2 separate regions of the Homo sapiens genome follow, and region 1 is reported to be linked to region 2. Evidence: microRNA targets listed by miRTarBase, many of them from high-throughput screens and not tested one by one. Region 2 holds a microRNA gene; the other region holds the end of a gene's coding sequence.

Region 1 (4,254 bases), not on the chromosome of region 2:
ACCCCCAACCAGGCCAGCGGAAGCCTGCCACCTCCTATGTGCGGACCACCATCAACAAGAATGCTCGCGCCACGCTCAGCAGCATCAGACACATGATCCGCAAGAACAAGTACCGCCCCGACCTGCGCATGGTGAGCTGGGGTTTGGGGATCAGGCTTGGGGAGACTGGCCAGTGCTGTGGGGAAGGGCCTCCCACTACTGGTTGCAATATGGGCTGGAGAGGGATGGATTCTTGCTTTCAGCCTACTCCCCACACCCAGCATTGGCCTAGGGGGCGGCTTGTGGAGTGTATGGGCTGAGCCTTGCTCTGCTCCCCCGCCCCCAGGCAGCCATCCGCAGGGCCAGCGCCATCCTGCGCAGCCAGAAGCCTGTGATGGTGAAGAGGAAGCGGACCCGCCCCACCAAGAGCTCCTGAGCCCCCTGCCCCCAGAGCAATAAAGTCAGCTGGCTTTCTCACCTGCCTCGACTGGGCCTCCCTTTTTGAAACGCTCTGGGGAGCTCTGGCCCTGTGTGTTGTCATTCAGGCCATGTCATCAAAACTCTGCATGTCACCTTGTCCATCTGGAGGTGATGTCAATGGCTGGCCATGCAGGAGGGGTGGGGTAGCTGCCTTGTCCCTGGTGAGGGCAAGGGTCACTGTCTTCACAGAAAAAGTTTGCTGACTTGTGATTGAGACCTACTGTCCCATTGTGAGGTGGCCTGAAGAATCCCAGCTGGGGCAGTGGCTTCCATTCAGAAGAAGAAAGGCCTTTTCTAGCCCAGAAGGGTGCAGGCTGAGGGCTGGGCCCTGGGCCCTGGTGCTGTAGCACGGTTTGGGGACTTGGGGTGTTCCCAAGACCTGGGGGACGACAGACATCACGGGAGGAAGATGAGATGACTTTTGCATCCAGGGAGTGGGTGCAGCCACATTTGGAGGGGATGGGCTTTACTTGATGCAACCTCATCTCTGAGATGGGCAACTTGGTGGGTGGTGGCTTATAACTGTAAGGGAGATGGCAGCCCCAGGGTACAGCCAGCAGGCATTGAGCAGCCTTAGCATTGTCCCCCTACTCCCGTCCTCCAGGTGTCCCCATCCCTCCCCTGTCTCTTTGAGCTGGCTCTTGTCACTTAGGTCTCATCTCAGTGGCCGCTCCTGGGCCACCCTGTCACCCAAGCTTTCCTGATTGCCCAGCCCTCTTGTTTCCTTTGGCCTGTTTGCTCCCTAGTGTTTATTACAGCTTGTGAGGCCAGGAGTTTGAGACCATCCTAGGCAACATAATGAGACACCGTCTCTAAAATAAAATTAGCTGGGTGTGGTGGTGCACCGCCTGTGGTCCCAGCTCCTCAGAGGTTGAGTAGAGGCTGAGGTGAGCGGAGCACTTGAGCCAAGAGTATGAGGCTGCAGTGAGCCCATGAGCCCCACCACTACACTCCAGCCTGGAAGACACCATGACACACAGTGAGGCCTGGATGGGGAAAGAGTCCTGCTGTTGATCCTCACATGTTTCCTGGGCACCTAACTCTGTCAGCCACTGCCAGGGACCAAGGATCCAGCATCCATGGCACCCCTGGTTCCTGCCATCCTGGGGTACCCGATTCAAAGAAGGACTCTGCTCCCTGTCTGAGACCACCCCCGGCTCTGACTGAGAGTAAGGGGACTGTCAGGGCCTCGACTTGCCATTGGTTGGGGTCGTACGGGGCTGGGAGCCCTGCGTTTTGAGGCAGACCACTGCCCTTCCGACCTCAGTCCTGTCTGCTCCAGTCTTGCCCAGCTCGAAGGAGAGCAGATCTGACCACTTGCCAGCCCCTGTCTGCTGTGAATTACCATTTCCTTTGTCCTTCCCTTAGTTGGGTCTATTAGCTCAGATTGAGAGGTGTTGCCTTAAAACTGAGTTGGGTGACTTGGTACCTGCTCAGGACCCCCCGCACTGTCCCAATCCCACTCAGGCCCACCTCCAGCTGGCCTCACTCCGCTGGTGACTTCGTACCTGCTCAGGAGCCCCCACTGTCCCAGTCCCACTCAGGCCCATCTCTGGCTGGCCTCACTGCGCTGGGACTCCGCCTTCATAAGGAGAGCTCACTGCTCACGTTAGTAGATGGCCCCTTCTCGTGAGGCCTCTCCCCTGGCACCTGCTTCAGTTGTCCTCCACAGCACTGATTTGCAGCCCACAAGCTGGCAGGTTTATCTGTCTCATGTTTGTCTTGTGCTGGTGGGCAAGGGGTTTGTCTAGCACACCAGCATATAATGAGATGCTTGATGAATGGTGCATATTGAATGTATAAAGCCCACCGGTCCTGAGAGTTTGCTCACTGGAGACTTTCTGGAGATGGAGTCTCGCTCTGTTGCCCAGGCTGGCGAGTGCAATGGCGCGATCTTGGCTCACTGCAGCCTCCACCTCCTGGGTTCAAGCGATTCTCCTGCCTCAGCCTCCCGAGTAGCTGGGATTACAGGTGGGTGTCACCACACCCAGCTCAGTATTGTATTTTTAGCAGAGATGGGGTTTCACCATTTTGCCCAGGCTGGTTTGGAACTCCTGACTTCAAATTACCCACCTGCCTCAGCCTCCCAAAGTGCTGGCATTACAGGCGCTCGAGGCTTTCTGATGTGGCTGCTGCTGCTCAGAAGGCCTTGTCCTTAACCACCTCCTTGCCTGCCCTGGAGGCTTGTGCCTCTAGGCCCCACCCCCTGTGGAGTCCTGCTGGCTTTCTCCATCCCTATCTGAATCCTCCCTGCTGTGTGGCCTCCCCTGGTCTCATCCGTAACACAGCCCAGCTTAGTGGGCCTCTGTTCCTGCGGGTGGCCAGCCTGTCTGTGTGGCTGGGCTGGGGAGGCCACGTCTGGTATCTGAATGCTATCGGTGGGTTGGGGTGGAGGAACCAGGAGAGGGCTGGAGGGAGGGAGATGGTCTCAGCCCCACAGAGTTTGGAGTCCTCAGTGTGCTGAGCAAACGTGGAGACACCATTTCCCTCCTCTAGACCTCATCTTGGAGAGAGAGATGTTGGATGGGGCCATCTATTCCAGCTTTATTCACACAAATCATGTCTGTTGGCCTGGAAATTGGAAAACCAGTTAAACCAAAAACATGATATTAAGAAAACAGGCAGGCTCACCATAGTAAAAATGCTGAAAGCCAAAGACAAAATTGGGAGAACAAAAGAAAAGCGTCTTGTCACATACAGAAGGTCCCTGATAAAGTTAGTAGCTGCCCTCATCAGAAACCAGGCCCAGGCAGTGGGGACACATCCAGAGTGCTGAAAGAACCTCCCCCAGGTCATCCTATCCCCAAGAGTGATGCCCGGCAGCATTCCCAGCTCAGGGCTAATGGTTCACGGAAGCCAGGAATCAAACTGCCTGGGTTCCAGTCCCAGCTCTGCCAGTTATGCCCAGCTGTGGGGACTTGGGCAGCTCGTTTAGTAGCACCGTGCCTCAGTTTCCCATATGTAAAAGGCCATTTTGAGTGCCTTTCACAGCCCTGCATAAGGCAGGTGTCTCAGTGTTCACTGCTGTCTCTCCAGCTCTTAGTCCAGTAGCTGCATGGTGAGTGAGCGTAGGGCGCACCCTGGAAGGCTGCCAAGCCCAAAGTTGTGCAGAGCGCTGGGGACTCCAGACTCCCCACAGCAGCAGAGACTCGGGACTGAGGCATCCTCTGTTCACAGGACATGCTGGCATCTACTGGGTCAGGGCTCTGCTGCTCGGTGGCTGTGCAACCTTGGGCAAGTTCCTCAACCTCTCTGTGTCTTCGTACCCTCATCTGTAACATGCGTGTCGATAGACCCTACTACTCAGGGTTGATGAGAAGATTAAATGTGCAAAACCTGCTTGACTGTGCCCACAAATCCTGATTGTAGGAATAAATTAATGACTTTTTATAAATATTTTGATCAGATGGACTCATGATCACAGATGTCTTCACATGCCTATGACTAATTTGTACACAAACTAATGCTCGTGTTTCCCAAGCACCTGGAAGACATGCCAGATCCATGTGCAGTAATGCCTGGTGGCTCCAGGTCTGCCCCGCCGTCCTGTGGGGCTGTGAGCTTTCCCAGCCTCCTGCCCGTGTTTGTGAATATCATTCTGTCCTCAGCTGCATTTCCAGCCCAGGCTGTTTGGCGCTGCCCAGGAATGGTATCAATTCCCCTGTTTCTCTTGTAGCCAGTTACTAGAATAAAATCATCTACTTTAAAATCTTTCATTATGAAATATGCATGTGGTCTTGAAAAACTGCAAATGAAAGAAGAGTATGCAGGGGAAGAAAATCTCAGAATCCCAGC
Region 2 (4,254 bases):
CCCGGACGCCGTCGCCCCCACACACGCCCGCTCCGCCGCCCGCGCCCTCACGTGGGCGATCTCTAGACGCCTCTGCGCCCGCTAGGAGTCCCCGGAGACCACGCCGGCCGTCCTCCGTTGTTAACTTCTAGGCTCGCGGGGCCTCCGTATCCCCACGTGGGCCCTGCAGGAACTGGCGGGGCGCGTGACCCGGCGAGGCCCAGAGACAGGGGAGGGGCGCCGGGAGCCGGGCGGATCCGCGTCCCCGATGCGCGCTGCATTTCCGGCGGGCGGCGCTGGGGGCAGCGTGGAGCCACCCAGTGCTCGGCCCGCCCCGCAACCCGCCGGAACCGCCGCCCGCAGCGAGGAAGCGCCCGCGCGGGCGCAGGCGGCCGGAATGGCGGGGCCCGGCTGGGGTCCCCCGCGCCTGGACGGCTTCATCCTCACCGAGCGCCTGGGCAGCGGCACGTACGCCACGGTGTACAAGGCCTACGCCAAGGTGGGTGCCGGCCGATGGCCCCGTGCCCGCCCGAGCTAGCTCGGCTGGTGCCGGCCGGGGAGACTCTGAGAGGTTAGCGACAGTGTGGGAATAGTTAGGGGCGGGAGGCCGGCCTCGCCCCAGCTGACCCTCGGCGGAGGTTGGAGCCGACTGCCACGCTTAGGTCTTAAAGAGCGCACCTGCACCCACCTGCAGGGTCAGTGGCTGAAGAACAGGCTCAAAACAGGTTACCTGGTGGGCTGGGAGGAGTCTGGGACTGGAGCCAGTTGGGAGGCAGAGTGGGCGGTTCTAGAACCCTGAGTGACATGCCTCTGCCGGGAGCACTCCAGAATGCAAAGAAATGGATCAGCTAGCCGAGGGTTGGAGAAGACCAGGCTGAGGCTGTGTCGGGAAGCCAGGATTCCAGAATCAGCATTCCTCACTGGCCTCACAAGGGAAAGCTGGGAAGCCCGGTGCTGGTGTGCAGTAGGTAGACCCGGGGAGGGGCGGGGTGGGGGAACAGAGGGAACCAGATAGAGCCTTTCCAGTCAGACAAGGGTCCTGGCCCCCTCAAGGCAGAGTCCCCAAATCTCCTGTCTCGCAGAAGGACACTCGTGAAGTGGTAGCCATAAAGTGTGTAGCCAAGAAAAGTCTGAACAAGGCATCGGTGGAGAACCTCCTCACGGAGATTGAGATCCTCAAGGGCATTCGACATCCCCACATTGTGCAGCTGAAAGACTTTCAGGTGTGAGCCTGGGGCGGGGCCGCTGCCAAAGGGAGCTGGAGAAGGGACACTCTCTTCAGGCCGCCTCTCTGCCTCTAAACACAGTGGGACAGTGACAATATCTACCTCATCATGGAGTTTTGCGCAGGGGGCGACCTGTCTCGCTTCATCCATACCCGCAGGATTCTGCCTGAGAAGGTGGCGCGTGTCTTCATGCAGCAATTAGGTAAAGGCCTGTGACACCAGCCTGACACTCTGTCCCTTGTTCTCTGCCCCCCACCATCCCACCCCTCCCCCAGGCTTAGAGCCTTGGCACGCATTGCAGCTGCCTCCTGCACAGCCTGAAATTTTATGGTCCTGTTTATCTCATACACTCAACCCTTGCTCAAGGACGCTGTGGGAGAGATGAGGGGGTAACCCCTCTGTGGGGTGTTCAGGCTTCCATACATAGAACATAATATAAGGACCTTGTAGAACATTCCAGAGTCCTGTAGGTAGGACTCAAGTGCTGTGCCAAGGAAAAGAGCAGGATCTCAAGGGCTGGGGCATCCAGAGAAGCTTCTGAGAGGTGGGGAGACTTGTGAAGGGGCAGAGGGAAGGAGGGTGGGCACTCGGGTGGGGTGGCAAACTCCTAGAAGTGGTGTGATCTTGGTGCTTATATGGAAAACATTAGACCAGCCAGGCAGGAACTGGGGTTGTGCAGGCTTGAGGAGGCAGATGTGAGCCGGGGAGGCGAGAGGCAGGCGGGAATGGGCTCTGAACTGTCTCTCTTCGTGGGTCCTGCTCCTCAGCTAGCGCCCTGCAATTCCTGCATGAACGGAATATCTCTCACCTGGATCTGAAGCCACAGAACATTCTACTGAGCTCCTTGGAGAAGCCCCACCTAAAACTGGCAGGTCTGTGTCTGAAACAGCAGGGATGAGGTTTGGAGAGTGCAGAGGCCTCCCTCTGCCTGGGCTCACTCAGCAGCCCTGGTTCTTATGGAGCCCTCTATAGAGTCCTCAAAGAGTGACAGGCCGTGAAGTCTGGGGTTGGGCCCTGTCATCAAAAGGTGGAAGCTTTCTCAGGCTACCCATGCTCAAGTCCAGCAGCATAATGGGTGGAGTTAGGGCTCAGTCTGTGGCCAGAGTTGGGACTCACTGTGTGTCCAGGTTTAGGGGTCAATCTGGGAACAGTGCCAGGGTTCAGCGTGTGACAAGCATCAGGGATCCCTCTGTGGGCAGGGACAGGACTTGGTCTGTCATCAGAATTGGGGCTCAAGTCTGTGACTCCATCTGTGGCCACATAGGAGGGGTGTGGTGGGGGAGTAGGAGGTGGTGACCCTTGATAAGATTTGGATAATTGACACTGGAGGCCAGAGACTGTGATAGAACCTAAGCCTGGGGGGACAGTGAGAGGGTGGGGGCTTATGCAGGTAGCTGGTGTGATCAGGTGGGCTTCCTAGGAAAAGGTGCCCAAGGGAGCTGGGAAGGATGGGTAGGTTTTATACCCCAGAGGCAGATATAGGAGGGTGTTCCAGCCTAATGATGAGCAGAGGCTTGGAAATAGGGTTGATCCTGGCGGGTCTGGAGGGTGGAGAGGAGCCTGGGGTGAGGCTTTACAAGTCAGGAGCTGAAGCAGCTGGAATTCAAGCCCTGCTGCCTCTCCTCTTGCCTGCAGACTTTGGTTTCGCACAACACATGTCCCCGTGGGATGAGAAGCACGTGCTCCGTGGCTCCCCCCTCTACATGGCCCCCGAGATGGTGTGCCAGCGGCAGTATGACGCCCGCGTGGACCTCTGGTCCATGGGGGTCATCCTGTATGGTGAGACCTCTTTTCCCTGCTTCTCACCCTGAGGCCTACAGTTTCCTCAGGCAAGGCCTCTCTGGGCCACTTCTGAAGGGTTCTGATGAAAACTGACTGCTGGCCCAGGGCCCCTGCTGAGGGGCGTCAGGCCAGGCTTGACCCATTCCCTCCCAGCCTCCGCTCTGCCTCCCTTCCACAGAAGCCCTCTTCGGGCAGCCCCCCTTTGCCTCCAGGTCGTTCTCGGAGCTGGAAGAGAAGATCCGTAGCAACCGGGTCATCGAGGTGTGTCTAGCAGGGCCTTAGCGACCACTGGGGGGCAGAGGGAGTCAGGGCCCTGAGGGTTTAGACCTCGTTCTGACCTGCAGAGACTGGAGTATGGGCTCCAGGCTGCCTTTGTGGTGGAGGGGCAGGTTCTAGGCTGGAAGTCGAGGTGCCAGGCTGTCCCAGGGCCTCAGGTCAGCCCACAGCTGGCAGCACAGTGCCCATTTTGCAGGCCCTTGTGGGGAGAATGCAAAGCAGAGCCAGGCCCAGCCTTCCTAGGAGCATAGTCCAGGGAGGGAAATAAGGACCCAGAAACACGATTCTAGCTCAGCTCAGGGCTCCAGCGAGGGTGCACCGGGAGCCCAGGGATGGAGGCCTCGCTCCCCGCTGGCTCCATCATCCTGACCCATCCTGTTCCTCCTCGGTCTCAGATTCCCCACCTGTCCAACGCGTACCTCTGGGGTTCCTCGCAGACCCCTGGGCTAGGGGTAGGGGTGGAGGAGCCCAGTGTGATCTGTCCCTGCCGTTCCCTTCCCTGCAGCTCCCCTTGCGGCCCCTGCTCTCCCGAGACTGCCGGGACCTACTGCAGCGGCTCCTGGAGCGGGACCCCAGCCGTCGCATCTCCTTCCAGGACTTTTTTGCGCACCCCTGGGTGGACCTGGAGCACATGCCCAGTGGGGAGAGTCTGGGGCGAGCAGTGAGCAGACGGCTGGGGCTGGGGTGGGCTGAGGGTGGGCTGGAGGTCTCCTTGCCCCCGTTGGTGGTGAATTGGTGACTCACCCAACAGAGACAGAGGGCGGGCTCAGGGGAGCTGATCTCCCATCTTGGTGAGTGTGGGAGGGTAGGGAGGTGGACCTGACCCCTGATCTGCCCATCCCCAGACCGCCCTGGTGGTGCAGGCTGTGAAGAAAGACCAGGAGGGGGATTCAGCAGCTGCCTTATCACTCTACTGCAAGGCTCTGGACTTCTTTGTACCTGCCCTGCACTGTGAGTCCCAGGCCATGCCTGAAGCCCGTGGGTGCAGCAG

What was found. The annotated mature microRNA hsa-miR-6882-3p reads UGCUGCCUCUCCUCUUGCCUGCAG and lies in region 2 at 2,817-2,840, shown strand. An mRNA with a match to its seed (bases 2 to 7 or 8) in the 3' UTR can be bound and repressed. Matches are read on the target gene's strand: a 7mer-m8 pairs with bases 2 to 8, a 7mer-A1 pairs with bases 2 to 7 and ends in A, and an 8mer does both.
Region 1: the mRNA of RPL28 is a reported target of hsa-miR-6882-3p. Seed matches in the 3' UTR shown: 7mer-A1 at 3,278-3,284.

Annotation. Positions count from the first base shown.
Region 1 is chr19:55,387,918-55,392,171 of GRCh38, forward strand. It overlaps RPL28 (ribosomal protein L28), which reads left to right. Exons shown (of 5, transcript NM_000991.5): 4 at 13-131; 5 at 326-4,168. The coding sequence ends at 415. MIR6805 (microRNA 6805) reads left to right here and starts at 264; the gene lies at 264-325.
Region 2 is chr15:74,839,228-74,843,481 of GRCh38, reverse strand. It overlaps MIR6882 (microRNA 6882), which reads left to right and starts at 2,775; the gene lies at 2,775-2,840. It overlaps ULK3 (unc-51 like kinase 3), which reads left to right and starts at 326. Exons shown (of 16, transcript NM_001099436.4): 1 at 326-478; 2 at 1,062-1,202; 3 at 1,287-1,407; 4 at 1,973-2,077; 5 at 2,841-2,984; 6 at 3,166-3,248; 7 at 3,769-3,924; 8 at 4,109-4,214. The coding sequence starts at 377. RefSeq lists silencers at 1-564, 3,809-3,956 and enhancers at 1-738, 807-1,332.